2 linked regions of the Homo sapiens genome follow. The protein of the gene in region 2 purifies or fractionates together with the protein of the main gene of each other region. This does not show direct contact. Each region holds a gene or a part of one and is shown on either strand. Other genes may lie near its edges. The genes, in order: WDR75 and PLEK.

Evidence for each region.
Region 1: the proteins of PLEK (region 2) and WDR75 purify together in Homo sapiens (affinity purification with mass spectrometry; 2 studies listed by BioGRID and IntAct, with this or other methods). This does not show direct contact.

What each region holds. Positions count from the first base shown.
Region 1 is NC_000002.12:189,461,754-189,477,286, forward strand, and holds the end of WDR75 (WD repeat-containing protein 75), read left to right. Parts: intron 1-730; coding exon 731-889; intron 890-1,940; coding exon 1,941-2,000; intron 2,001-2,092; coding exon 2,093-2,208; intron 2,209-3,325; coding exon 3,326-3,501; intron 3,502-4,671; coding exon 4,672-4,829; intron 4,830-5,714; coding exon 5,715-5,895; intron 5,896-6,721; coding exon 6,722-6,816; intron 6,817-7,590; coding exon 7,591-7,686; intron 7,687-8,322; coding exon 8,323-8,492; intron 8,493-9,065; coding exon 9,066-9,125; intron 9,126-12,432; coding exon 12,433-12,579; intron 12,580-12,963; coding exon 12,964-13,055; intron 13,056-13,459; coding exon 13,460-13,664; 3' UTR 13,665-13,799; downstream 13,800-15,533. UniProt on the Homo sapiens protein: Ribosome biogenesis factor. Part of the small subunit (SSU) processome, first precursor of the small eukaryotic ribosomal subunit.
Region 2 is NC_000002.12:68,367,481-68,383,013, reverse strand, and holds part of PLEK (pleckstrin), read right to left. Parts: intron 2,687-15,533; coding exon 2,531-2,686; intron 2,292-2,530; coding exon 2,110-2,291; intron 473-2,109; coding exon 381-472; intron 1-380. UniProt on the Homo sapiens protein: Major protein kinase C substrate of platelets.

The sequences.
Region 1 (15,533 bases), about 120 Mb from region 2:
CACTAGACATCCAGTTAACGTTGAATCAAAATGGTAATAATATTCTTAATCACAAAGGGAAAGTTTTCAATAGTTTAACTTTTAGTGTGGTGTTTGCTATAGATGTTATCCAGGTACTCTTGATGAGATTCAAAGGGTCCCATCCATTCCTGAGTTTCTGAGAGGTATTATCATGAATACGTATAGAATTCTGTCATTTGCTTTTTCTGCATCTATTCAAATAATCATGGTGTTTTCCTTTTGTTCTGTAAGTGGGGTTACATTAATTTATTTTTCAGCTGTTAAGGTAATCTCATTCTTGCAGTAAACTGCGATGACATGATACCCTTTAATATATCATTGGTATAGTATTTTGCTTAAGAATTTTCATCTGTCGTGAAATCGGCTTTTTTTTATATATATATAATATTTTTGGTATAGTATTTAAATGTTTAGAAAAATTTATCAGTGAAGCTATCTTGGCCTAAAGGATATTTGTTTGTCCAGCTTTTCTAGTTGTCAACAGAGGAGTTGGTCAGCAACAAACTAATCAGATATCACTGGAAAAAAAATTCCTGAACCAGTGATCATTTGTCTTCAGAGTATATTAAAAGATACGAAGACACTTTTTGTAGCTTTAAATGAGTTTATTTCTCTAGTACGGTAGCAAAAACAAAAGTGTTAATTATATTTTTCTTTCTCTTTTTTCCTCAAAACACCATCCTTTTAATTTCCTTGAATGGATATGAAGGCACCAGTCTGCTGAGTGGCGGTCGTGAATCTGTACTTGTAGAGTGGCGCGATGCAACAGAGAAGAATAAGGAGTTTCTCCCGCGTTTAGGAGCTACTATTGAACATATCTCAGTCTCGCCTGCAGGAGATTTATTCTGCACTTCTCACTCTGATAATAGTAAGTCTAAATTTTTTATTATGAGGAAATATATAAACACCATAAATTAGCTAGCATCTGTAGGGAACAGAGAATAAAGAGACCTAAAACTAAGAGTAGCGTATGAGATTTAATGAGCCTTCTTTTCCTTGCATTACTCCTCTCTTTTCCACCCCTCTCTACCCCTAGGCACCACCAGAATTCAACATTTTTGAGAATTATTTTTATAAAATGGAAGGCTAAGTGTATTTGGTTATTGATGTGCCACTTACATTTTCAAAGTCTTTTAGTGTGGGATGACATGAGGAAATAAAGGGAAGGTTTGGAAGTGGACATTGGTGCTTTCATAAACCTTCCGTTTTCAAAAGAATACTGCAAGATTCTCTTTTGATACAGCTGTTACCTGGGGGCAAGAGTCCTGTAGATTTGATAGAAATAGAGGCAGTCTTATATTTCTCCAAAACTTTGTTCATCCAGTGACTACTCAGCCTAGACTAGGATATCTTTGTAAATCCACTTCCTTTTCTTTCAAAAAAGAACATAACTGTGAGCAGTCCATTTAGTGGCATGAAAAAGTTAAACTATTTTTATTAGATATACTCTATAGATTTTGCATTAACACTTAAAATGTGTTCATAGGCACAACTGATAAAAACTTAAAGACTCCAACAGAAAAGCCCCTATCCCCACCCCTAGATTTTCCACTAACTCACAAAATGTATTCCTGATTTTCTAGTAGTACTCTGAGTTCATTGAACTTACTGGGTTGTTTTGTATTCTGGTATATTTCAGAATATAAACTCAGGTGACTCCTTCACCTTGAAGCTCTAACCCAGGGGTGTCCAATCTTTTGGCTTCCCTGAGCCACATTGGAAAAAGAATTGTCTTGGGCCAGACATAAAATATACTAACACTAATGATAGCTGATGAGCTAAAAATAATAATAATAATAATGTTTTCAGAAAGTTTATGAATTTGTGTTAGGCTGCATAAAAAGCCACCCTGAGCCACAGGTTGGACAAGCTTTCTCTAACCTATTGATATTTAAATACCTATTTTTTTCTACCCACAGAGATAATAATTATTCACCGAAACCTTGAAGCATCCGCAGTAATTCAAGGCCTAGTGAAAGGTATTGCAGAACTCAGTGGATTTGGAATCATGAACATTTTAAAGAGTGCATATTTCTCTTATTTCACCTGTTATTTGTCACCACTTCTGCAGATAGGAGTATCTTCACTGGTTTGATGATTGATCCAAGAACTAAAGCTTTGGTTTTGAATGGAAAACCTGGCCACCTGCAGTTTTATTCTCTCCAGAGTGATAAACAGTTATACAATGTAAGATTTTGATCATTAGCCTTGAAATTAATGAAAGCTCTTTACAGTACCACTGGAGTCAAGCAATTTGTTTAGTAGCTTTTAAAACAAGATCCTGTGCATATGTTTACTTGAACATAGTATTATCCGTGGTTACTTAGTTCAGTTGTTCAGAGCATAATTCCATTGAGGCCACAGTTGCAGGTTACATGTAAGCCAGTTGGCACTCCTGTACGTGCTGTCTCTGTCTTTTGTTTCAGAATGCCCTCCTATTAGCTATCCCATACATCTGTGCTTTTGAGTCACAAGGATAAAGAAACAAAAATAGGTAGATTGACAGTACAAATTTGTATCTGCTTCGTGGTGAAACACTATCATATTCACATATTGAAGATAAAATTTTCAGTGTAGATTAAAGAGGAACACTTCTTCCAATCCTGATAAGTCCAATCCAGATGTCCCACTTTTCTTGTTCCCCACAGTACTCTTTACAGATCTCTGTCATAGCAACTGTGACACTAGCTCTTTCTCACCGTGGCCTTTAGACCCCTCAAAAAAAAGGAAGCATATTAATCATTTTATGCTTATCTCAAGTATAATGCCTGTAAATTGTAGGCATTTAGTACACTTAATAGTAGGCATTTTATTTACTTAGTATAGGCAAGGAAATGGGATTTTTTTTAAAACAACCATAAATAAATGCTGGCCTACTTACATTGGCTATCTTTTTTCATTTCTTAAAGATTGTAGGTTTATTTCTGTTCTGCTTGTTTCTGTTGACAGAGAATCTAGCCTTGAGATGATGTAAAGCTGTTTGTTCTTAGAAACAAAAGAAAAGCACTACTATAAATTAACGGTTCTGTTGTATCATATAGTGGGTGTTAGTAATCGCTAATATTCAAGGTCATTGAAGAATAATTACCACCAAATTGATACTATTATAATGTGTTCCCTTTTTTAATGGCAATTTTGGTGTCCATAGTAACAATTAGTTCATTTTTGCCTTTATTTAAAAATCTATTACTATACAGTACAGAAGTTGTCTTGGATGTAGTTAATTATCATTTCTTGAATGCTGTAACATTTGTGTATTTATGTTAATAAACATTTTGGTTTTTTGGTTTTTTTTACTCATCAGTTAGATATTATACAGCAAGAATATATTAATGATTATGGTCTGATCCAAATTGAACTAACAAAGGCTGCATTTGGCTGCTTTGGTAACTGGCTTGCAACAGTGGAACAGCGGCAAGAAAAGGAAACTGAGCTTGAATTGCAAATGAAACTGTGGATGTATAATAAGAAAACACAAGGGTAATACTATCTGTGTAGCCACTTAATTTCAAAGTATAAAATATTTCACTTCCCATTTTACAGTTTCAATTGTCTTTAAGATGTTTCATCTTGACAAGGTTTAGATTTAGAGATATGGGAGAGGTTTTATTCTAATAAAACCTTTAAGCTTTCTGCTCTGAGAAGACATTGATGTCCTCTAAGTCATAATGTCATCTCATAATGAATAAAGAAACATGGAAAAGTGACACCTCCTCAAGGGCATAATACCGAATTCTAGGCAAATCCAGGGTTAGAATCCAAATGTTCCCTTGCTCTTCCGTTAACAGCATACTGCCTTTTGAAAAGAGGGAGTGTAGGTAGAAGTGTAGCATAGTATAATGTAGCATGGATGTTGTGATTAGATAAGGAATCCACTCTCGTACTGTGGCTATAATAACCACTTAACAGATCTTTGCTGTGTGCCAAGAACTTGGCTTAGAGCTTTGTACCCATTATCTTACTCTTCAAAAGAACACTGTAAGATAAGCCTGTTGTCTATATTTTATAGGTGAAGAAACAGGCCCAGAGAGATTAAGTGGTTGTCCCTAGTCACTGTTGTTATAACTTGTGCTTTTTTAAAATCACAATCCTATGCTGCCTTGATGTTCTTTTAAGAACACAGTCCTAGTTGTCTTTCATTCACAGCGTTGCCCTCTAAGCTCGAAATAAGCTTTAAGAAGTCATTTAGGTGACTAAAAATAGTAAATAATGACCAGCCAGTTTGACTAAGTAGTTTCCTGTCTATTTTTCCTTGCCCCAGGTGGGGCGTTTCACGGCCTTTCCATTTTTTATTTTCAAAAGTAGGCAGGAATCTGGGTTCTATACAAGTTTCCTACAGAGTTTGATACAGTAGGCTTTTGAGTATCATTGATTGGTGACCTGTATTATCCTCATTTTGTACCAATGTACTAGTGGGTTGACTACTACACAGAATGTTCTCTAAAGTCACACAAGGGCAAAGGTGATATATTAGAACTCTTTGCGTCCTGTGGCCATTAGAGGTAGAGCACTCAATTGTTTGTCATTCTACGTGATTATCAGTTGCCTGTTGTTCAAGATGCTATTGTAAAATGTACAGCATGTCAGAAATTCTTATATACATCACTTTGTCCTCATGCAAGAATAAATTTGTGGTTTCCTTCCCGCTAGGTTTATTCTTAACACTAAAATTAACATGCCACACGAAGACTGCATTACAGCTCTCTGTTTCTGTAATGCAGAAAAATCTGAACAGCCCACCTTGGTTACAGCTAGCAAAGATGGTTACTTCAAAGTATGGATATTAACAGATGACTCTGACATATACAGTAAGTTATTAAATATGTTATGTTTAAAGTGTGCACAATTTTAGGAATTAATTTCTTTTTCTCATGACTTGTATCCATCCTGGGAGGACATTTTCTACTTTATTGAATTCTACAGGATATTGCTTAATCTTAATAGATTTAAGAGATTACATTTTACATGCCTTTTTCCTCAAATCTGTTCTTTTTAAATGGCATTCTTGATTAATCATGTGCTGATTATTCTGTTTTTTTAGGGTAAAGTAAAAGGGGCTTTTACCAAGAGTCCTTTCACTCCTCCACTAGAGGGAGGTCAAGGTCTCCAGGAGAGGGCATAAATTTCAGAACAGTCAGTATTTTGTAGCAGTTCTGACTTAAAGAAGTTGTGGGGAACAGGTTTTCTTGTTTTGTGTCTTTGTTTCTTTTTTATTTTATTTGTTATTTGTGTGTGCATCTTTGTTTCTTAATCCCTACTGCTTATAATGTCCCTCATTTAGCAGTCTCCCTTTAACAGTGGGGGATACAATCCAAGACCCCCCCGCCCCAGTTGATGCCTGAAACTGCAGATAGTACCGAACCCTGTATATACTGTTTTTTTCCTATACATACATACCTGAGATAAAGTTTAATTTATAAATTAGGCACAGTAAGAGGTTAATAACTAATAATAGAATGATTACAATAATATACTGTAATAAAAAGTGAATATGTGCATGCTCTGTGTCTGCCTTTCTCTCTCTTTCAAAATATCTTTTTGTACTGTACACAGCTATTTTCAGACCTCAGTTGACCCCTAGGAACTGAAACCACAGAAAGTGAACCCTCAGATAATGGGAAACTAGGGGGAACTACTGTAGCATTCTCTAGCATTTACACAATTTCTGAACATTATGGCTTATATTTCCACAGAAAAAGCTGTTGGCTGGACCTGTGACTTTGTTGGTAGTTATCACAAGTATCAAGCAACTAACTGTTGTTTCTCCGAAGATGGTTCTTTACTAGCAGTTAGTTTTGAGGAAATAGTCACAATATGGGATTCTGTAACATGGGAACTTAAATGTACATTTTGCCAACGAGCTGGGAAAATAAGGTAGGTAAATCTTCGGGAAGTATGTAGTACTATTTTTTAACTTATTTAAACAAGTCTTAAAACTTTAGTAGTCATTTATGCCCTCTCCAAAAGTAGCCTGAAGGTCAGTGGGGCAAGCAGCTAATCAAAATGCTGGAAAGCCAAAAATTCTGAGTCCACAAACTGTGCCAACATTTCTGAAATTCAGGTTAACATTTAACTCTTGGCCTACATATTTTTTCTTTGGAATACTTTCATGGATGTGCTGAATGGTAACAGAAGCTATACATAAGCCTCAGGGGATCCAAACCTTCTTATTTTCTGTGTATTCCCATAAAAACCGTGTTATGCGCCAACCTCATTGTTTCCGAGAGGTGCAGGGGAAAGTAGCAGCAGCATTTTCAGGTCCTGCTTCAGGTAGTTGGGCCTGAGGACAGAATCAGATGCCTAATGAGATCGTCTCTAATTCCCAGCATGTCTGATTCTGAATTTACTTTGTAAAACTTTCTTCACAATTGAAATCGCAAGTTTTCTTCTTCTTGGTAAATAGGATTTTTGTCAGATGACTGTACGTTTCATGTACATTTTCTCTGTTAGATGTAAATTGGTATACCGCACAGTGTGTTAAAGAATTGGTCATCCGTTCTGTTTTCCTAAAGAAATAGCTAACTAGACCCTTCCTTTTGTACTCCTTAGACACTTTTTTCTTCAGGATAATTATAAACAAAAATATATATGTCTATATAAAAATCTGCATTACATAGAACAGCCGCTGGAAGCCTGCAGTTCTTTGTAACTGAATTTGCTAGAACTGACTGTTGCTAACTTCCTTGTGGTTTTAATCTAGGCACCTTTGCTTTGGGAGATTGACGTGTTCAAAGTATCTACTTGGTGCTACTGAAAATGGCATTCTTTGCTGTTGGAATCTGCTGAGCTGTGCATGTAAGATATTTTTTACTCTAAAGTGATCTGGCAAAGCGCATAAGGAGTTGACATTAAACTTTGGCATTTTAGGACTTAGGGATCATATCATCAGGTCTGTACTTGGAATAGTCAGTTTTTTACGTGACATATGATGCCACCAAAATTTGGAATACTGGGCCTGTAATAGACATTATTTATTAACTGCTTAATTGTTGGTACGTCAGCTTCCATTATCCTTACCTTTTTCTACTGTTTTCAGTGTGTGTGACTTTCTGATGCCCTCCATATTCCCCATCCTCGTAACAATTTGAATAATGTTTTCTGCTCATTTTTAATACTTACTAATCTACATTATCCCTGACAGCTTAAATTCAAATGTAGTCTATCACAGTCCTAACAAATGTGAACTTAGTGGCATTTTACCCATTTGAGTGTATGTTTGGAAGGCATAGTAGCTGCTTATAAATGAATGTGTATGGTAACTTTTTTCAGTATTCTTTACAGTTAACTCTGGTTAACATACTGTACACATTTAGCAGCATCAGAAAAGCACTAGACATAAATTTCAATGAAATAATAATCTTTTCATAGTTTGTACAAGGAGCACTACAGTTCCAGTATGTTTTTCTTTCGGCCTCTCACTTTAGTGCAGCATTCTACAAATCATTTCAGTGTGTCTCCATGTGTGTTAGTTGGAAGCATAAGATTCCTCTTCCTAAGAATAAGAGAAGTTTTTTAAAGCTTTTGGTAAATCTTTCCTTAGAAGTGAATCACCTTTGTTTTTCCCCTCAGTGGAGTGGAATGCAAAATTAAATGTTAGAGTTATGGAACCCGATCCTAATTCAGAGAATATTGCTGCAATCTCTCAGTCTTCAGTGGGTTCAGACTGTAAGTACAAACCACACTTTGTAGTAAGAGAACATCTATGACCTAAGTTTTCTTCTTAATATAATTTGAGCCAAACTTGCCTTCACATCAGATGTTAATTGGAAGCCATTTTGCTTGAGGCACGGCCCTTCTTTGCCCCAACACTTTGTCATTGTGTGCGTCCATACTTAGTTCTAGGAGAGCTCCAATATGTTTCTTATTTTTCCACAAGCCAATTCGTACTCAATCTTTAAAATTCAAGAGATTTCACCAGTTTGACATATTTCCAACTGCCCCTGAGAAGCTTTAATTGGTCATCCTCTATGTTCTTGAAGCAGTTTCTACATATCTCATTTCTAGTACTTACAGACAAAATACTACTGTAATAATATTTTGGTTTCTGTCTTCTGCAGTGGGCCCTGGCCTCTGGAGCACGAATTCTTCTTTCTGTTTTTCATCCTCATAGCCCTCATTCCTAACCTGCCTGGCCCATAGTAGGAACACAGTAGATACCTCTTGAATCAAAGCCTAAAACAGTCATGACTTGGGCCAGTTACTCAATGGGGTGAGTCCCAGGATTAGTGTGATCTGCCAGTCTGAGGCTAGAACTAACCTTTTCAGGCAAAATGTTATTGTTTCTTTGTTTTTTCCCTCTAGTGTTTGTATTTAAACCTAGTGAGCCAAGGCCATTGTATATTCAAAAGGGTATCTCCAGAGAGAAAGTCCAGTGGGGAGTGTTTGTTCCACGAGATGTCCCTGAATCCTTCACCTCAGAAGCTTACCAGTGGCTAAATAGATCCCAGTTTTACTTCCTAACAAAATCACAGGTAACTGCCTCCCTCAAAAAAGGCGATCACTTTGTACATGGAATTTTAGACTAATAGCCCATGACTATTGGTGTGAGTTTGTTTCTAGGTGAAACAGCTTCATTAAAGGATTATTTCCCAAAAAATTGTCTAATATGCTCAGTACAGCAGCATTATTAATGTAAATGTATTACCGTTTTACCCCACACTTTTGAGGTTCCTTAGGTATTGCTTGTATTAACTCTGTGACAGCAAAAAAGCAGAAGACAACTAAAATACTTTAAATTGCATGATTCTTTTTTCTTTTTCTTTTTTTTTTCAGTGTTTGATTTGCAATTTTTAAAATGGTGGCTTGAGTTTTGTCTGTCAGTTATATTTTTTATTCATTACCATTTCTTAAGTATCTCTCAGACATAATCTTGTAACTCTCATCGTGGTTATTAAATAGGTTTAAATCTTTTATTCCTTTTCTGTTGTCAAATATATATATCAAAGTGAAAAATTTGACCTTCTCATTTTTTAACACCCTGTAACACCTTGTTTAGATTTGCACTCTACAGTTTGTCTTTTGCATCATTAATTCTCTCTTTTCAGAGTTTATTGACATTCAGTACAAAGTCTCCAGAAGAAAAACTCACACCAACAAGCAAACAGGTATGTTTTAGCCATTCATAGCAGGATGTATTGCCTCCCTAAAAGGATACAATTACCTTTTAGAAGTCAACTATGAAAAAAATATTTCACTTGGCCCTAAAATAGAATTAAAAGCCATATACTTATAAACTGATATGTGTCTCTTGAAAGTTTTAGTGCTCTTTTAAAATTATTTTAATTTATAATATCAGTAATATATAATTCTGATTTAAAGAGTCAAATATTTTTACAAGGCTCTTCAGAAAAAACTTCTCCAACACCACTACCATTACCCACAAAGACAATCACTCTCAAATCTTTTAGCTGAAGTTTTTATTTAACTCTGAATCTCTAAGAAATCTCTAAGAAATGTTTATATTTCTAATTATAGGTTTTTCAGATTTAGGTATTATCTGTTAACTCTGATCTATTGACGCTGAATTTTTAGCTGTTTTTCACATCAGCACTCCCTGCATATACACAACACACACTTTCCCTACTTGTCCCCCAATTTTCCCCATATGGGTAAATGTTAAATTGGTTAGTTCAGTAGTCATTGTCATAGCTGTGTTAACACAATTCATAGCCAAGCCATGTAGTAATAGGCAGATTGTTTTTCCTTTTGTGACCAAGTTTTTATTTTCTGTGGAGTTAATGATTGCCTTGTTTTTTCATTTGCTTAGTTTTCTATTCTCATGTAATTCAACCCCAAATTCTGCTCAAGTTGTGTAAGTATTCTCTCAGTGTTTTCAGATACATTAGGTATTCTTTCAAGTCATAAAGGATTATTTCCAAGAGCCTTCTGACTGTCTTCAGTCTGGACTGATTGCTCTGGAAACCTGCTACACAGTAGTCATCCTAGGATCTATATTCACCATCATTCTGGGGATTTGTTTGACCTCTACTCTATTAGTGGTGTGGTTTTTCTCTTTCTTTGGTCACTCCCCTGTTTTGGTGAAGCATTCTTTTAGTGCATTGGAGGTCAATTTAAGACCTTGCATGTTTGGAAATGTTTTTATTCTCTTTCACTTGATTATTATAGAGTTGTAGGTTGAAAATCATTCTCGCAGAACTTTGACATTATTGTCCTATTATTTTATAATTTCCATTATTACTAGAAGACCAATACCATTCTTGTTCTTGTTCCTTTGTCTGTAACTTGGCTTGTTTATTTTCCTTTAAAACTCATTGGATTAATTCAATAATTTTTTGTTAATTATTTACTGTACGCCAGGGACCATTGTAGACAGTTGGGATACAGTAGTGAGAAAAGTAGTCAAGTCTCTAAACTTGCGGTATTCACAGTCCACCAGAAGATAGAGACAGTAAACAACATGCATTAAGTAAAATATGGAGTAGAGAAGGTGGTAAGAATTGTGGTGGGGTAGAGAATAGACGAAAAGATGGCATGCATGGGATGCAGCTTGTAATTTTAAACAGGGAAGTCTACGTAGGCCTTATTGAAAAGATTCTGACTTTTTCTCTGAGTTACATATAGGGCCCCTTGGAGAGTTTTGAGTAGAGAACTAAGGAGGAGCTAATTACTTCTTTCTCTATTCTTTTTCTAGAACTCCTATTATTTAGTGCTGGACTTTCTAGAATGGTTCTCTATTATTCTTATTGTTTTGCCTATTTTTTGTTTGTTTTCTGGAAGATTTCCTCATCTTTATCATCAAATCTTTTTTTCTTTTTCATGGTCTGTTTCCATTACATTTTTTTTTGTTTTTGGTTTGTCTTGGTTGCTGCCTTTCATCTAGAGGTTTTCATCAGAGTCTGATGATTCTTGGCTGTCTTTGGATTTAAAAGTGGGTTAAAAAGCCACTTGGAAGTTCTCTGCCTGTGCAGAACTTATCCCTTGGCTTCCACTATCTGAGCTAATTTATTGAGACAGTCTCAAATGTCATTACAATTGACCCTTGAACAATGTAGAGATTGAAAACCTATGTATAACTTTTGACTTCCCAAAACTTAACCTGAAGCCTTACTGATAACAGTTATTTGTATTATATGTATTATATACTGTATTCTTACAATAAAGTATGCTAGAGGAAAAAAAAAAGTTAAGAAATATCATAAGGAGGCCGGGCACGGTGGTTCTTGCCTGTAATCCCACATTTTGGAAGGCCAAGGCAGGTAGATCACTTGAGGTCAGGAGTTCGAGACCAGCCTGGCCAACATGGCAAAACCCCATCTCTACTAAAAATACAAAAATTAGCCAAGCATGGTGGTGCATGCCTGTAATCCCACCTACTCGGGGGCTGAGGCAGGAGAATCACTGGAACCTGGGAGATGGCGGTTGCAGTGAGCCTAGGTCACACCACTGCACTCCAGCCTGGGTGACAGAACAAGACTCCATCTCAAAAAAAAAAATTATAAGAAAGAGAAAAATATATTTATTCATTAAGTGGAAATAGATCATCACAAAGGTCTTCATCCTCATCTTCACATAGAGTAGGCTAAGGAAGAGAAGGAGTTGATCTTGCCATCTCAGGTCTGGCAGAAATAGAAGAAACTCCACATAGACGTGTTATTCGAACCCTTGTTATTCCAAGGTTAGCTGTATCTTTAGGTCTTACTTAGGCTGGTCAAATTAACCATAAAAAATTCTATGCGTTCCTGCCTAAAGGATTTAGACCTACCTGTCAGTGTTCTGAGAACCCCCTACATGAAGTACAACTGCCTAGATATGAAGATACCACCACCACCACCACCGCTATCCATACCTAGCCTAAAGATGTAGAGCCCTCTGCTGGGGCTGAGGAGGAGCTGTGGGGTGCTTTCTAAGTAGACTTTCCACCAGCCCGTCTGGTTTGTCTAGTCCCATTTTCACCCCACATCCAGAGTTACTATTATTACCAACTCCTGAGCATTTGCAGGATTCTGTAGTATGAATTGGGATGCTTCTTGGCTTTCCCTACAGCCAGCTTAGAATTGTGCTTTCTCAGGTCTACTAAGTTCAATACCATCCTTCAGCCTGCTCTCCAGTTTCCAACATGTTACTGTTAAGGCCTTTTCCCTCATTTTCTATCATTGTGAGTATGTGCCCTTTGAAAACCCTTTTGCTGTCATTTTTGTGGGATTTGGTGAAGAAGCAGTGGTAAATGCATGTATTATTCTGTCATCTAAGTGTTCACTGTTAGCTCTTCTCATAAGTGGGATGCTAGGCCTCAGTTGCTTTCTCTGTGAAATGAGAGGATCATACTAACTGGATAATTTGTAAAATTCCTTTCATCCCAGACTTTTTATGATTCTGTAGTACTTACTGTTAAGTCAAACACAGTTCTTCCTTTTTTCTGAAATAATTTCTCTTTGTCTTAAATCCTTAAAGCTGCTAGCAGAAGAAAGTCTTCCCACAACCCCATTTTATTTCATATTGGGAAAACACAGGCAACAGCAGGATGAAAAACTAAACGAAACTTTAGAGAATGAGCTGGTACAACTACCCTTAACAGAAAACATACCCGCAATTAGTGAGGTAAGTAATTATGAAAACCATGTGAAACAGATTAAATGCACTTAAAGCACCTGAAGTTGGAGTTTTGACACAGTCAATCTGTAATTTGTATGCTGTACAACTTTAATACCCAAACTAAATAACTAACAACAAACCGAGTAACTTAACCTTGTGATCTGGGATTGTTTTGTCCTGGACCTGGTGTAGGGATAGGGGTGGTTGTTGGCATAAATGTAGGAAGGTAGAAATGTATTTTTCTTTGGTTTGGCTTTTGTATAGGGAAAGCCTTTTCATGTTTCACTCTTGGCATTTACAATAAAAGGGACTCCGTGAGGACACTGTAGGAACAGACTGCGGTGGAGGATAAGCTTTTTAATTGCAACCGTGTTTTCTGTTTGACTCCAGCTTCTTCACACTCCAGCCCATGTCCTGCCATCTGCTGCTTTCCTGTGCTCCATGTTTGTAAATTCATTGCTGCTGTCTAAAGAGACTAAGAGGTAAAGCAGTTCTTAAGACAGGTTTGGACACTCTCTTTTGGGAAACAGGATCGTTTGTGTTTATCCTTTTTTAGAGTATTCTTCCACTGTATTTCTTTTTATTTCATAAGTTTTAAAATAGATTTAAAGGCTATAGGATTATTAAGTCAAGTAACATACATTGAAAATAAGTTTCAAAAAAGATCTTGTATGTGTGTGTTTTAAGGGCTTGGTACATAATTTAAAATTACATGTTTGTAAATTCACCTGCTCTTTTATAAATAACCCATAATTTTTAAAGTGTACTTAGTAACAAAATTCTTCATTTACTTTGTGTGATTATATTTCTACATAGGTGTCAAATTAGAAAGTTACTGTTTAGAAACATTTAATAGTGTTTATATTTTATTCTGTTATTGTTAAAGTGCTAAGGAAATTCCTGAAGATGTAGATATGGAAGAAGAAAAAGAAAGTGAAGATTCAGATGAAGAAAATGATTTTACCGAAAAAGTCCAGGATACAAGTAACACAGGTTTAGGAGAAGACATTATACATCAGTTGTCAAAATCTGAAGAAAAAGAACTGAGAAAATTTAGGAAAATAGACTACAGCTGGATAGCTGCCCTTTAAGCCTTGGAGATGGGGAGGATCCTTGGACTTTGTGTTTTTGATTGTATGTTGATATTCTAAAAACATCTATTTTAATGTTATTTCTGTTCTAAAAATAAGATAATAAATATTAACAAACTTTGCTTTTTTAAAAAACTGATAATATGAACATGTATTTGCATCATGCTTTACAGTTACTGGATCATTGATATACCACATCATCTCATTTTTTTATTTTGAGTCACACATCAGCCTTATAAAACAAGTAGGTATTTTCTTCACAGGTGATACAGCAGAACTGAGACTTGAACTGTACAGCATATGTCCCCTAAGCTGCAGTTTGGAGATACGAAAAGATTTGAAAGTTAAAAGGCTTTGTTGACATAATTGTTTTAACACAAATTCATTTGGTGGCCAAATGTGACCTGAGCTGGAGTGAGGTTTCTTTAGTCCTGATTTATTCCTCTTAGTGTATTTATTTCTCTCAGAGAAATTTAGAGACGAGTTGATTATGTGGTGTTCCACAAACCTCACTGAGGATATTATATAATAATATGGGCTGCCTAAAATTCTGAATTCAGATGATCTGACCCAAAGTCCAGTTGCTAGTAGAAAACGATCCAGATCCCCTGTTTTAGTTAAAGCAGTGAAGCTGCTACATCTTAACCACCTAGCATTTTGAGTTTTCCACTTCCCTAATGCACTTTTGTAAAATTTATATTTAGAAGTTAGCACAAAAACAAAGCGTTTGTAAGAGCACATCTCAATGAATGTTCACAAAAATTGCTGCAAATGGCTTTTTAGTTTGTGCTGTAGACCAAATGTTTGTTGTGCCCCCCTAAAATTCAAATGTTGGAATCTAATCCTCAATGTGGTATTTGGAGATGGGGCCTTTGGGAGATGATTAGGTCATGAGACTGGAGCCTTTGTGAATAGGATAAATGCTGTTACAAAAGAGACACTGGAGAGCTTCTTTGCCCCTTCTAACACGTGGGGATACAGCAAGAAGAAAACCATCTGTGAACTATGAAGTGGGGCCTCACCAAACAGCAAATCTGGTGCCTTTTTGTTAGACTTTCCGACTTCTGGAACTGAGACATAAGTTTCTGTTTATAAACCACCCGGTCTGTAGCATCCTAAACAGACTTAAAGTGTTTTTGAATCACTATTTATGTAAAATCTTAACTTTTTTTTTTTCAAGTCCCCAACCCCCACCTCGGACTCGTAAGTGGCTGGGACTACAGGCACTCACCACCACACCTGGCTATTTTTTAAATTTTTTGTAGAGATGTCTTGCTATGTTACCCAGGCTAGTCTCAAACTCTTTGGCCTCAAGTGATCCTCCGACCTTGGCTACATTTTTTAAAAATAAGCTACATTGAGATTTGAGATGTAACTCACAAACCATACAATTCATGCATTTAAAGAGGAAAATTTAGTGGGTTTTAATACGTTCAGTCTTGGACACCATCACCACAATCAATTTTAGAACATTTTCATCACCCCAAAACTAGCCATTTCCCTCAGCCTCCTTCACCTCACCAACAATGCAACAACTCATCCTATCTCTGTAAATTTGCCTATTCTGGACATTTCATGTAAATGGACTCATACAATATGTGATCTTTTGTAAGTGGCTGCTTTCATTCAGCATCCATGTTGTAGATATATCAGTACTTCATTCCTTTTTATTTTCACTTTTGTTAGTATACCTATGAGGGGAATTACTGGGTTATTTGGTAACTATGTTTAACCTTTTGAAGAACCACCAGATTTTACATATCAGCTGCAGCATTTTACATTATTTACATTATGGCACATAAATTGCTCCACAGTCATCCGTTAAATTGAGTCCCTTTCTACTGGTGGTGGGATGGAAGGTGGAAATTA
Region 2 (15,533 bases):
TAATATTGTCATTTAAAACTTACATTGTATGCCTTAATCCCTGTTTATTGTAGTAAGGGTTGCATCTTATCCAATTCTGTGTCTATTTCTAGCAAGTCTCAACATAATGCCATTTATTGAGAAAAAAAATCCTTTGATTGGAACGTTAGCTTGAACAAATGTTAACTTGAACAAATAAAGCTTGAACAAAATCGTTAGCTTGAACAACAAACTTCTTTCTATTTTCACTCTGTAGGAGCTTCATCCTCAGGCTCACCAGGCTGCATTCTGGGACCCCTTCCAACCCCCATACTTCATACCCCCACCTCACAGACGAGGCCGAAGGAGGACTCCATATCGCCTTCCCAGTCGCCCTATTTCAGGCCTGCAAGTGCTTTTACCTGTGAAGCAGTGATTAAAAATCTTCTTGTCCTTCTCTAGATTCAGTTCTTTTATTCCTTTTTCAGTGTCTTTCATGGACAAATATAAGGCACTGCACAGAGATAAAAAAGCAAACAAACAAACAAACAAAAAAAAACCCAGTTGGATGAGTGGGGAACATTTCAGAATGGTAAGTTCTCTCTGGGAGGTGAGCACAAGCTCCCCCACCCCAGGTATCCCCTGAGCTTAATCTCCCTCCATCAGATCATAAGTAGTGGAGGGGCAACATTCATATCTGCATAACTCTGTAGCCTGCACAGCGTTTAGCAATGCTGGAAGGTACTTAACGTCTCCTAAATTCTCTTAAATTCATTCAGCTGTTTGTTGATTTAATTATTGGTTCCTGGGATGGAAATTTGCCCCAATTTAGAGGTCAAAGATGAAAGGTTCCTAGGGTCCATTTTCTACACATTCTACATCTTTAATGTCCCTCAATCCTCATATCCCAATTCTTTAATGCTCTTCAAGGGACCATCTGTGGTAGACATTGGCCTTTAAGAAAGTGAATGCTTCCACTAAGCATATGTCTTATCTTTAAAATGATGAGATATAAGGCAAAATGGTGAGAAGTTCTCATTTTTGTCCTTGAAGTAATACATCAAAGATAGCCTTACGAGAGAAGCTCTAAGCAACAAAACAGAAGGCCCCTTCCATGTAGCCTGTGGCTCCCTATAGCCCGAGCATTTTTCCCACTTAGTTCTGACAGCACTGGCCAGGACTGTGGTCACTCGATGGCCCCCATCAGCAGCTGCAGCTGCACTAGGTGCCTCGTTGGAGCTCTTTGCCAAAAAGCTTTTGTGGTGAAGGAGGCTGCTGAGTCTCACTCAGCTCAGTTCACAAACTTTGTCAAACTCCTGTGCCATGCCAAGTCTTGTGTCGTCATGCAGAAGTGCAGAAGGGATGTCTTTAGGCTCCTCTCAGTGCTTCTCCCCACCCCACCCTCCATAAAAACAAAATTCTTGTTGGACATTTTAAGCAGCTGGCATGGGATTCTTCTCAACAGGGCTCCTGCTTCAGGGAATGCTCAACAAAAAAGCAAAACTACCAAGAAGAAAGTGACTCCTAGAGAAAGGGGCTCATGTGACCAAAGATGTGAGATACTCAGGAAGGAAGAAATCCCATTCCCAACCTCTGTCAGGAGCTAGATCTTCCTGTTGGCCTCTGACCACCTTTAGTCTACAACTATCACCTGCAATTCCAAGCCAACCAACATCAGCGGCCATTAAACTGGGTCAGGACATAAATGGCTTCCACCAGGATGGGTGTTTACCCTGGCTGGCCCTTCCTGAGTGTGTAAATGAATGAACTTGAACTTGAAACCTTGCTTGCTTGGATGCATAGCCCCTGCTTTTTCCTTTCTACCTAAAGATCCTAAAGCTTTATTTCAAGACTGACTTATTATGGCTATGTTATAAATGCAATGATGATGTTTCTTTCTCTCTCTCTCTCTCTCTCTCTCTGGTACCCAGTATGAGGGAATTTGTACTCCATTCGCCTCCTCTCCTCAGCTAGTAGGCCTTGGATCACTCCTTCAGACCCAGGTAAACATTTTAGTACACCAAGTGCCAGTATTGACCTGGCAGAGTGGATACAACATCAGAGGTGGTCAAAGCAAGCCTTGGAGCAGGATCTGCTATGTTTGTGTCTTTCAGAAGGAATGGGTAAAGAGAAGTAAACACAGAAAATCACCCTAAGTCAATGGTTTCTGGCAGTCGAATGGACCTCCTGGTAGATTTCCTGGCAAATTTCTGGCCTCCTTCAATGCATTTAATGGCCTTCTTGATATCCCGAACCCAGGCATCTCTCTCCTCCAGGAAGGCTGCCTGGAAGAAGTGGTCCTGCTGTTTGGTCGTAGTGATCTTAAACACAAACTGAAAATCAAAACACATCCCATTAGAAATGGCTTATTTCAAGGGCTTGGGGCCCCTCATGAAGCAGAGGCCATTGGCCTAAACCTCTTCTAGCCAAGAGAAACCCAAATGCCAGGGTGGGGTGTGGGTGGTGGTGAGAGGGACCAGCCCAAGGAGCACCACCCACATTGTAGGCAATGCTTGCACCAAAAGTTGAGTGCCTGACCAGGGGTTCACGGCAGCTCATGATGTCAACTTACCATCCTTTTGCCAAAGTCTTGACAAGGGCTAGTCAGAGTGCTCCCTTTCAGCGGGATCATTCCTTTGGGGCTGTTGTCACTTTTCTTCTTATAGAATTCAATTCCATCTTCTAACAATACAACCCACATGGGTTTCCACGTATTGAACACGCTCCCCTGTAATGACAACCAAAAGAGCTGAGATGGACAGGGCTCTTTGCAAACTGTATTTTCCTCCTAACAGGAAAGATTCTATATTTACTTACAGTTGGTTTTTAAAATGTTTGGTGACATCATCTCTGTTCCTTCAACACAAATCCTCTCAAATCAGTGGCTACTTGGGGAGCCATTCTCATTTCTACTCCCGGCTCTTTGCTCAAGCCAACCCCATTCTCTGGAATACTCCTCCCCAACTCTGCCCTCTCCTCTTTCTCACCTTGCCTAACCTCTCCATATCCTTCAAGGCTCAGCTTAGCCACCTCATTGATGAGGCTTCCCGAACTGCACAGACCCACCGTGATCTCAGGGGTGCCTCCTGCTTTTCTCACTGATTGTGCCATACAACCTGGAACTTTGTTATATATTTCCTCATGTAGTTCTTTAATTGTCTTCAGTATGGTTATCTTTCCTTCTCCATGGCAATTACATTATCAGGTACTTTCCTTGGTTCATGATACTGAGCACACAGGGGATGTTCATTAAAATAATACAAAAGAAGATCATTTCCCAAACTGCCAAATGCTAGCAGCTATCACACTTCATTGAAAAGAGCAACCAATCCTTCTTATTATCTACTTCATCCCCACCCAAACCCTTTCCTGCTATGATTTCCCCTGCACCTCCCTTTTCATGTCGGGTTCACACCATTAAGAACCACAAAGGACCCACCTCACAGAAACATTCTCACCCCCGCTATGTGTAAGAACTGCCGGCAGATCTTGCTTCTGAAACTACATCTGACACATGATCTTAGAGTATAGTTCTTTCTTTTTTTGAAGTCTTTATTTATTTTTACATGTTTAATTGCCTATTTTGAGGAGAAAAATACAAAAATGATAATTATTGGTGTTCGGTTGGAAGGGTTTTCATTTTTCAGGGTTTTAGAACATTTCAATTCTTGGGAGGGTTAGTCAGAATTGGAGAAAGAATTAAATATTCTAAAGCCTAGTGGTTTTCAAAATATGGCCTGCAAACCAACTAATCTGACTCACTGAAGACACATATAAATAAAAGCTGGTTTTACCCCAAATCTGCCTTCACTTACAAGCTCTGGTAACACTGCTGAGATGGTTGGCTGAATCTTAGATGATCTAGCTCAAGCACTCTCTCTCTGTCTCTTTTTTTAAATTTTATTTTTATTTTTATTTTTTTGAGACAGGTTCTCCCTCTGTCACCCAGGCTGGAGTGCAATTGCATGATCTCAGCTCACTGCAAGCTCCGCCTGTCAGGTTCAAGCAATTCTCCCACCTCAGCCTCCCAGGTAGCTGGGATTACAGGTGTGCACAACCACACCCAGCTAATATTTATGTTATTTTTTTCAGTAAAGACGGGGTTTCACCGTGTTGGCCAGGCTGGTCTTGAACTCCTGATCTCGTGTTCCTTCTGCCTCAGCCTCCCAGAGTGCTGGGATTACAGGTGTGAGCCATCGCGCCCAGCTGGTTCTATGACTTTCTTACTGCCCACACTTGTGTAAGCCACTTGCCCTCTCTAAGGCTCAGTTCCCAGCACTAAAATGATAAGAATGACTACCTCAGAGATTTCTAGAACATATGAAATGAAATAATTTGGATAAGATTTTATAAGTTCGAATGTGCTCTACAAATGAGAGGTTGTATTATTAAGTATCTTGACAGATGGCCATGTATGAATGTCTTCCATGCTTTGAGTTTTCATCCTCTCTATTCTTGGAAAAATGACAATGAACTGGTATCAGTATCATCCCAATGAGGAAGAGTCAAAAATATTTAGCCAGTTGCCATGTGGAGTAATGAATGGGAAAGCTGAAGGCCCTGAGGATCTGCATGAATGTATTTGTGAGGAAACACACTTCCCTTTGGTTTCTCTTCTGGTGGAATAAGGTTTGGGATTGTGAAGAATCCGGCCTGCCTCAGACTTGCAGGCCTCCTCCATTATTGTATGACATGTCATCCAATGATGCTTGAAGTATTTAGGATACTTCAGTGTATGCTATGATTTGGGGTCAAAACTCGAACCTACATTTGAGCCTCATGTCAACCACTTATTAGTTGTACATGTCTTTGGGTAAAATGTTTAATATTTCTGAGCCATGGCTTTTTGTTTGCTAAGAGAGAGATAATAATTCCATCTTAAAGCATAGTTTAGATTTAGATCATGTATAAAATATGTATATATAAGTGTATAATGCATGCCATATGCTTATATGTGAATAATGTACATATACATTATACAGTGTATATATCTTTAAATACATATGTATACACATGTTTTATATATAAAGTGTGTAAAATCACTCTGTCAACTATTGCCACCCAACTATATGTTCCAGGGGGGCAAGAACTTACTTCACCATCATATTGTCAGGTGTTCAATCAATAATTTGTGGAATGAACGGTGGTAATTAAAATCACATTATGACTGTAAGAAAATATTGGGGAAAATCTACAAGACATTGGTCTGGCCAAAAATTTCTTGAGCAATACCCTATAAGCACAGACAACCAAAGCAAAAATAAGCAAATGTGATCACATCAAGGTAAAAAGCTTTTGCACAGCAAAGGAAACAGGCAACGAAGTGAAGAGACAACCCACAGAATGACAGAAAATATTTGCAAACTACCCATCTGACAAAGGATTGATAGCCAGAATATATCAGGAGCTCAGACAACTCTAGAGGAAAAAAATCTAATAAACCATTCAAAAAATGGTCAAAATATTTGAATAGACATGTCTCAAAGGCAGACATACAAATGGCAAGTGTGCATATGAAAAGGTGCTCAACATCACTGATCATCAGAGAAATGCAAATCAAAACTACAATGAGATAACAGCTCATCTCAGTCAAAATGGCTTTTAACCAAAAAACAGGCAATAAGAAATGTTTTTGAGGATGTGGAGAAAAGGCAATACTTGTACACTGTTGGTGGGAATGTAAATTAGTACAAACACTATGAAGAACAGTTTGGAGGTTCCTCAAAAAACTAAAAACAGAACTACGATTTGACCCAGCAATCTCACTGGGGGGTATATACTGTAAAGAAAGGAAATCGGTATATGGATGAGATATCTGCACTCCCATGTTGGTTGCAGCACTGTTCACAATAGACAAGATTTGGAAGCAACCTAAGTGTCCCTCAACAGATGAGTGGATAAAGAAAGTGTAGTACATATACACAATGGAGGGCTACTTTGCCATAAAAAAGAAGGTCCTGTCATTTGCAACAACATGGATGGACCCGAAGATCATTATGTTGAGTGAAATGAGCCAGGCACAGAAAGACAGACATCACATGTTCTCACATATCTGTGAGATCTAAAAATCAAAACAACTGAACTCATGGACACAGAGAGTAGAAGGATGGTTACCAGAGGCCAGGAAGGGAAGTGGGGGACTGCAGGGAGGTGGGGATGGTTAATGGGTACCAAAAACAAGAAAACAGAAAGAATAAATGAGACCTATGATTTCATAGCACAACAGTGTGACTATTGCCAACTTAATTGTATATTTTAAAATAACTAAAAGAGCGTAATTGGATTGTTTGTAACACAAAGGATAAATGCTTAGTGGGGATGGATACCCCATTCTCCATGGTGTTATTATTACTCATTGCATGCCTGTATCAAAACATCTCATGTACCCTATAAATACATATACCTACTATGCACCCACAAAAATTTAAATTTTAAAAATTAAAAATTAAAAATAAGATCACATTATTAATAGATAAGACTGAATAAATAAGACATAATGAAATGATTAACATAAGAATAGACACAATAAGTGTGACAATATTTCCTAAAATGATCCTATAGACCTCTGCAGGACAATATGTAACTCAGCTTTGGCCAGTGTGGAGGCAGGTGGTCCACATTTGCACAAGGCTGCGCAGGAAGGATGCCTTCAGGGGAAAGGAGGACTGTCATTCTACTGGAATTTTTTTTAATTAAGATAAAATGTATATACAGTGACAGTCAACCCATAAGCTCCCCTGGTACATTTCAGGCTGACTTTATGTGGTTTGTTTTCTGCTCCCAAACCTGCCCATTGAGTTCAGTTCAACTCAAGAATGGCAAGTAGAATCTATCTCAAGTGTCAATTCAGACTGAGTAGTAGTGGATGCTTGAGGCTGGACTCAGTGGAAAAGTGTTGTGATCCAACAGCCGTGTCTCCCATAGACAAAGCAGTCATAAGTGGTGGCATGCACCCTGCAGTTGCTTCCATCTCTTGGGCTAATCAGATTTTATCTGAATATGAATGTCAAAAAGAAACTCAGACAGCAGCCTTGTGTGCAGGCATGGCTAAGTTGTATGAAAATCACTTGCAAAAGGTCTATAATGCCAGAATGAGGCTATCCACATTAATGTAGCCCTTAAAAAAATCCTTACTTAAAATGTTTTCAGTTTGGGTTCATGCCAGCTGCCCCTTTAGCAATAAGTTGACCATTCTGATTAAAACAGGGAAGTCTCTATTTCTGGTCTATATTTTGGAAGAATTTGGCAAAGGTCTATTCTTTAACCCATGATATCACCCTGTCATGACTACCACAAAATAGAATTATCATCCAGTTCCCAAGAGACCCTGCTGCTTATCTCAAAATACAAAGGGCCTCTATATAAAGGTCCAGTTGACCAAAAGGAAGACTATTTATGCAAAGATAAATACTTGTGGGACTATCACTTTGCTTGTCCAAACATTTCCTTTGTTCTAGTTACTAAAATAATTTTCTAAATTAAAATACCCTATCTCTTTTCTGCATGGGCAGAATAACTATTCCAGACGAACACTGGATTATTTCCCCTTTTAAAAATGAGCAAGATCAGACACTGTGCCAACACATGAAATAATTCCAGTAAAATGCCTTTCTGTTTTACAACTGAAACATATCTAGAATACAAAGAACTCCTGCAAATCAATAAGAAAAGTACAAATAATCCTATTTTTAAATGAGCAAAAAGTATCGAGCAGGCACTTTAGTAAAGAAAACATCCAAATGCTTATGAAAAAGTGTTCAACATCATTATTTATCAGGAAAATGCAGATTCAAATCACAATGAGATACCTCTACACACCTGCTAGAGTACCTAGCATTTTCAAAGTCAGAGAAGAATAAGACTTGACAAGGAGGTAGAATAACTGGAAGTACCAAACATAGCTGGCAGGAGTGCAGAATATCACATCCAGTGCAGAAAAAATATCTGGTGGTTTTATGCTAAAGCTAAACACATATATGTCCTTTGCACCAGCAATTTCACTCCTGGGCAAAGATCTGAGAGAAATGAATGCATATTGTCATAAAGGTTTCATCAAGAATGTTCATGACACCTTTATTCATCATAGCCAGAAACAAAGACTAACCCAAATGCCCATCAACAGGAGAAGGAATAAGTAAACTGTATAATATAATATATAAATCCATTATTAACACAGTAAATGTATACTATGGAAAACAACCTAGCAATTTTTAAAAAATGAACCGCTAGTACCTGGAACATTATAAATAAATCTCATAGATGTTGAGTGAAAAGCAAACAGGCAAAACATGTGCTTAGAGTATGATTACATTCATATGACGTTCAACAACAGGCATAGCTTATGAGAAAATATTACAATAATGGTTACCGACGATGGGAGTATAGACTAGGAAGGGAACAATGGAACTTTATAGCATACTAGAAATGTCTCTGTCTTTATCTGTGTGTTGATTACATGAGGTATAGGTATGTAAAAAATTATGACACCCTTCATGTACCTTATTGTAAGTTATCCTTCAATTAAAAAACAAAGTTGTTAACTCCAGGTCCTGTTAGTTAACTCCATGGAGGGGTATACAGTGATTATAGTAACACCACCCTTCAAGTTGCTTCTATAGAAGGAAACTATTCCACATTAGTTACTTCTCTCACTTAATCACTGGAAAAACAGCATATTCATGCAATGAATTGTCCTCGATTGAATCATGGATTCTTTTCAAAGCCGCTATGCAGAATATTATTGAGTGATCTGGCATCATTTGAATGTAAAAGGTGTATTAGATAAGGTCATTTTATTAGTAATAAATTTCTTAGATGTGATAATGGCATTGTGATTATATAGGAAAATGTCCTTTTTCTTGGAAGATGTATGTTGAAGTATTTTGGAGTGAGGTAGCGTGATGTCTGCAAATTACTCTCAACTATCTCAACCTAATATGATATGTGTGTTTATTTATACAGAAATTCAGAGATAGGGAGAGACAAAGCAAATGTGCCCATCCATTATCAATTGATTAATCTAGGTAAAGGCTATATGAATAATGGTACTAGTTTCCTCATTTTTCTGTGGGCTTAACTTTTAAAATAACTTGGGAAAATTATTAAATGAATGAGTAACATATGACTCTGCTATGTATTAAAATTTAGAATATACTTTTAGTGAAATACATAGACAAATCTATTTAATAAAAAATTTTAAAAATACCTGGAAATAAGAAAAGAAAGACATGTTCTCAGAGCTAGAAATGAAAAGTTGCACTAGATGATTGCCAGAATCCCTTTTAAACCTAACATTTAATATTCAACCTCAGGAATAGCTGAGATTATTAACTGCCATCATCACTCAGGGCTTTTGACTTTGAAATTGGGATGCATCAGTAGCGATAAGCTGGCATTGCATGCCTTCAGTAGACAAAGCCTCTGGAGCCAACTGTCCAATATGAGTTTGTGCTTTTCTTTTTTTTTTTTTATTTTCTTTATTATACTTTAAGTTTTAGGGTACATGTGCACAACGTGAAGGTTAGTTACCTATGTATACACGTGCCATGTTGGGATAGCATTAGGAGATATACCTAATGTTAAATGACGAGTTAATGGGTGCAGCACAACAACATGGCACATGTATACATATGTAACTAACCTTCACGTTGTGCTTTTCTAAATCAAGTGCAGCCTCCGGGGTCTGACTCTGAGGAGGATGTGTCATTTGGGATTCAGGGTCATTATGCACAATGAAGAGGCTGATACTTTATGAAACAAGAGAAATCTGACCACTTACAAAGCTTAAACATCCTTCCAGGCCTGATAGTGCTGAGTTAGGTCAGGATGATGGAATTTGAGGAGGTTTTTCTCTCCTCTTCACCACTACTGCAGCTACCAGTTTCTCACTCGGGTAACCTGGCAGCACCTCTCCTTGACCATTCCTAAATTTTTCCTTTTCTGGCCCCAACCCACTTGATGCTCACCCAAGAGCAAACCTGGAAGTGTGATTATGGAATGTCCAAATGACAGAGAAATTTAGGATCATCTACCAACACTGTCACCATATTGATAAAAAAAAGTGGAGGCCCAGTTAAGTGATTGGCCTACCACATCTGAACAATTAATGTTAAGTGATTGGCCTAGTACATCTGACCAGTTAATGTAGAATCCATGTCTCCTGATTCTCAATTTTATGTTTTTTCCCTTCCCCTCAGATGTCATTTTCATTTTGGTTCTTGTATAACACTGAGTCATTCTGGAATCTGTATCGATTTCTTTAGACCACTTAGCTAGCTATTTCACTTCAATGGAGATATATATACACACACACACATATATATCCATATGCTGTGTGTATGTGTGTCTGTGTGTGTGTGTGCATGTGTGTGTGTAGCATATATGTGTTTTCACCCATTATATGCCAAAACCTGTACATGTCCACAATGGGATGCTGAGTCAGATTTGAAGTTTTCTGGTAAATACCTGTTCATCATCATGGGACTGGTATAATTTAGCACCTAAGAGTCTGACATTGCATGACATCAAAAGAAGAAATCATAAAGAACGGCAGATTTGACCATATTAAAAATAAACTTCTCGGCTGGGCGCAGTGGCTCATGCCTGTAATCCCAGCACTTTAAGAGGCTGAGGTGGGTGGATCACTTGAGGCCAGGAGTTTGAGACCAGCCTGGCCAACATGATGAAAGCCAGTCTCTACTAAAAATATACAAAAATTAGCTGGGTGTGGTGATGCACACCTACGGTCCCAGCTACTTGGGAGGCTGAGGCAGGAGAATCACTTGAACCCAAGAGGTGGAGATTGCAGTGAGCCTAGATCACACCACTGCACTCCAGCCTGGGCAACAGAGCAAGACTTCATCTCAAGAAAAAAAAAAATGAACTTCTCTATATTTAAAAAACTGCAACAACTGAAAAGCAAATGAAAATGCATAGATATTTGTATCATCATATGATTAAAAATTAATATCCTTAATTCTTTAAACACTTTAGAACCAATAAGAAATATATCAACACTCCCAATTTTTTAAATGAGCAAATAATATAAATAAGCAATTCTCAAACGAATAAAAGCTGGGTCCAATAAAACATAATTGATTGCTTCAACTGCAATCAAAGAAATGCAAATTGAAATTAAATAAGATACAGCCTTTCTCTTTAATAATATTTTGTAAAGACTTATAAGGTGTGGGAAATGAGCATGTGGGAAAAAAGGAGCTCTATGAGTCAGCAATTTGATGTGGGCTGTCAAAAAAAAACTAAACTCGTTGTGGTTGTATACAGAGAAGTGTAAGATCGAAAGCAAGGAAAATGATAATTCTGTCTTTAAACGAAGCATAGCCTGCAGGTGACCATGGGCTCTGGAGCTGGATGGCTCAGGCTCAAATCCCAACTCTGCCACTTTCTAGTAATGTGGCCTTGAGAAAGTTTTTAAACTTCATTCTCTCCTTCTGGCAAGCAGATATGATGATATCTACTTCTCAGCTTTGTTGGGAGATGAAAACAATCCATGTAAATTGCTTAAATCAGTAATTGGCATATAGTAATCACTCATTAAATAGTACCTATTCCTTACAGTTCTATGCTTATCAGGTGCTCCTGGAGAACTATACTAAGTTCAAGTGACCTCAAAGCTGCAGGTAAACCAGAGCCTGTTCAAAGCAGAACACCAAGATGGTATCATCTCTCTAACTGTTGGAGGAACTAACTAGGTTTTAGCCCATAAAGGAACAGGTAGAGCAGGTGTGAATGCCTGGATTGTTTTGAGGTCCCAGCCGGTGGAGGTTTCAGGAAAACAGTTTTCTGCATAACTTAAGGGAGAAAATGTAATTAGTGAGTTCCCTAACAAGAGAAGTATTCAAGCATGCTTGTTAACAGATGAATAAAAGAAATGCAAGCTGCAGATGAGAAGCTGTATTAAATCTGTAACATCTCTTTCTACCCTGAGATCCTACACATCTATTCCAAGGTGCCTGCTGTCCCTCTTTTCCCCCTTTAGTCTTCTATTTCCAGGTGTCCCTGCTAACCCTTGGGCTTGCTTGAAAGCCAAAAAATAATAATAAATCTTTGAAATATATTCTACATGATCATCTAAAAATGACTACCCCCGTTGAAATTACTTTTTCTTAAGACTTAAGAAGTTACTTTGGTCTCTATGAAGTCTATTTTAGGCAAGTTTCTTTATTTGGGACACGTTCATTCAACAAATAATGATAGAATGGCTCCTATGCTTTCAACACTGGCCTGGTTGTTGGGATGTAAAATTAAGCAACTCTGAGCGCAGTACTCACACCTGTAATCCTAGCACTTTGGGAGGCCAAGGCGGGTGGATCACTTGAGGTTAAGAGTTCAAGACAAGCCTGGCCAACATGGTGAAACCCCATCTCTTCTAAAAATATAAAAATTAGCTGGGCTTGGTGGCACATGCCTGTAGTCCCAGTTACTTGGGAGGCTGATGTAAGAGAATCACTTGAACCCTGGAGGTGGAGGTTACAGTGAGCCAAGATTGTACCATTCCACTCCAGCCAAGACTACAGAGCAATACTCTGTCTCAAAATACATAAATAAATAAAATAAAAATAAAAACAAAAATAAACAAGACCCTATCTCTGCTCTCGAATAGTTCACAATCTCACATGGGAGAGAGTGACCTCCAGGTCAGTGTGATGAATGCACAAATTGAGGTGTGCCTTCTTGTGTACACCCAGCATCACAGAAAGAAGCTACAACCAATGGCTGAGGGTTGGGGCAATCGGATATTTGTGTTTAGAACCCCTCTCAGACACTCCCTACAAAGTGAAGGCATCTCTTTTAACTTCCCCTTTCCCTCAAATTTCTCTTTTCACATACAATGTATGGCTGGAATTCAAAGGAAAATTACACTGTGATCAAAACTGCATATCTAAAGCAGAACTGTCAGTTACTATTATCTATTCTTGCACACCCATGGGACATGTTATTTTAAGTTGATGCTGCATTCAATTAAGCCCTTATGTTGGCTACAACATAAATCACATCATCTAGTTTTCCAATCTGATCCATCAAATCACTGACATAACATCCCAAACAAATGGTTGTGTTGTGCCTATACAAACTCACTGAAGGCAAAGGAACTAGTCTATTCAGTAGCATATTTTTTACATAAGTGAACTCTTCCAGGTTGGAAAATTTATCAGTGAAAACATATTAAATAAGTAATACAGAAATGGCACAGAGAGTGCTTAACAGCATGACTTCTGGAGCCTTAGATTTAAATTCAGATCTCAATTTTGCCTCTTCCAGGCTCTGTAACCTTAGGTAACTTATTTAATTTTTCCAAGCATGAGTCTCCTCACCTGTAAAATGAAGGTAACAAAGCACCTGTTTCACATTGTGGTGAAGATTAAATGAGATAATATACATAAAGCATTCACCACAGTGGCCAGCATGTAGTATACATTTGAAAAATGGCGACCATAGAAACAGGTAAAAGTACGGTTTTGGGGGCGGAGGTTGCAGTGAGCCGAGATCGTACCATTGCACTCCAGCCTGGGCAACAAGAGCAAAACTCCATCTCAAAAAAAAAAAAAAAAAAGAGTACGGTTTTGTAGGCAACACTGTGGAGTCGCTCTGGCATAATGTTCCCCTGGGTACCCCTCATCATGGTGACAGTGCTTTGGAAAAGAATGTCACTGCAGTACGAGCCCACGAGGGCCACATAGAAAGTGGTTAGGCTCTGCGTGATACTGGGGCCACACTGCTGGGTTGCAAACCAGCTCTGCCACTTATTAACTGTGTGACTTTGGACAAGGCCATTTGCCTCTCTGTACTTCAATCTCCTTATCTGTTAAGTAAGGATAATAATTGTCCCCATTTTGTTGAGTTGTCTTAAGTATGCTGTATAAATGCATTAAGGCATGAAATGCTTGGAACTGTTCCTGCTTCAGGGTAAACACCACATGCGTTAGCTGTTACAGTGATGATGAATCAGTAGGCACAAATCGCTTCAGATTATTTCATGCTGCCTAGAAGACAAGGTAGATCCAGGAAAGAACTCCTGGGCCAGGACCCTGACTCTCGGGCTCTCTTCCACTTCTACCACAGCTTTCTGCAGCCCTTTCCTTTCCTGTCCCTGCTGCTTGCCCTTCCCTTTCCCATCACCCTGATTCCTATGCTTTCTCCCAGCCTCAAAGGACATCCAAATCCCTCAGCCACTTTCTGAGTCAGCGCTGCTGCGCCAAGTGCTTGTGAGGTTGGTTGTCCTGGAAACAACAGCTTGCTCCATAAACCTCTAGGAATTAGGCTGGTTTGAGACATGACTTGGAGGAGTCTAGGTTATGCAGAGCATATAATTTGCTCTTCTCTCATTTTTTCCAGTTATGATGATGAACATATCTAATTCAGTAGTAGGTATTCGAGTACCTTCCAAACATGTTTATTGGCCAGAAAGAAACCCCCTAAACAGAGAGGAAAGGAGGCTGAGGTTTTTAAACTTAATCTTGCCCACAAAACAATTTGTTCGTGCCTTGCTCTGGCTCTAGTGAGTTCTTTTGCAGGCCAGGGCAAGCCTGCCTTTCAGAATGCTGCCTGGGATCAATGAGATGGTAGGCTTTGCTGTTAGGCAGGCCGGGATTTGAATCCCAGGTCATCCTCTTGCCACATGTTTCACTGTGGACGAATCACTTATTCTCTGTGAACCTCAGTTTTCTTATCTGTAAGATGAGGATCACATAGGGTGGTTAGGATTAAATGAAGTCATGTTCGTATAGCAGCTTGCTGCTCCATGGTTGGCTAGAAGTGCTCTTTTTTAAAACAAAAAAGTAAGGTGAAAGACTCTGAGGCAAAGAGACATGGGTGTTACTTGGAATGAAAAAGCTGGAAAATGACAGAATCTTGTATTTTCCCTCCCCCTCTTAACCACTGTCTTCATTTGGAGATCTTATTCAGGAGGCAAAAGAGGAAACCTGGATTGTGAAATGTCAACAGTCATCTTGCACAGAAGAAAAGCAGAAACGTTTTACAGTTAACACTATTGACCCCAAGATTTCTGACCTGACAAAATTCCTGCACCAGCATTTTCTAATGCTATATTTTTTCCACCCAAAACAACTTATCTGCAATAAAATTATTTCATAAAACAAGACACAGGACAAAGATGTTCTCTGTTACTACCCAGGTATCTTGAACTGCATAAGAGAAAAAGGTGAATGGAGGAAGATTCACTATATTATTTTTCATGCTTTAATATCAAAAACCATAGCCAAGGCTTCTAAGAGCCTTTTCAAAGATTTTTATGGCCCTTCCTTCATAATTAATTTGGCAACCAACCCAGGAACCAGTACATAGCCCCATTAACATCTAGGGGAGGCCCCACTATCTACTGAAGCATATATTGATGCTGATACAAATAATCAGTGTCTTATGCAGCTTATGTACACCAATTATATGTCAGATTCTTGACATATACAGTTTTTAACCCACACGTGAGGTAACTGAAGGAAACTTAATGTCTAAAGTAGTTAAGAACTTTAATACCTTCTCAGGAAACTCTGTCTTTAGGTTTAGTTCTGCAGCTGAAAAAGGGAATATTTCTGGAC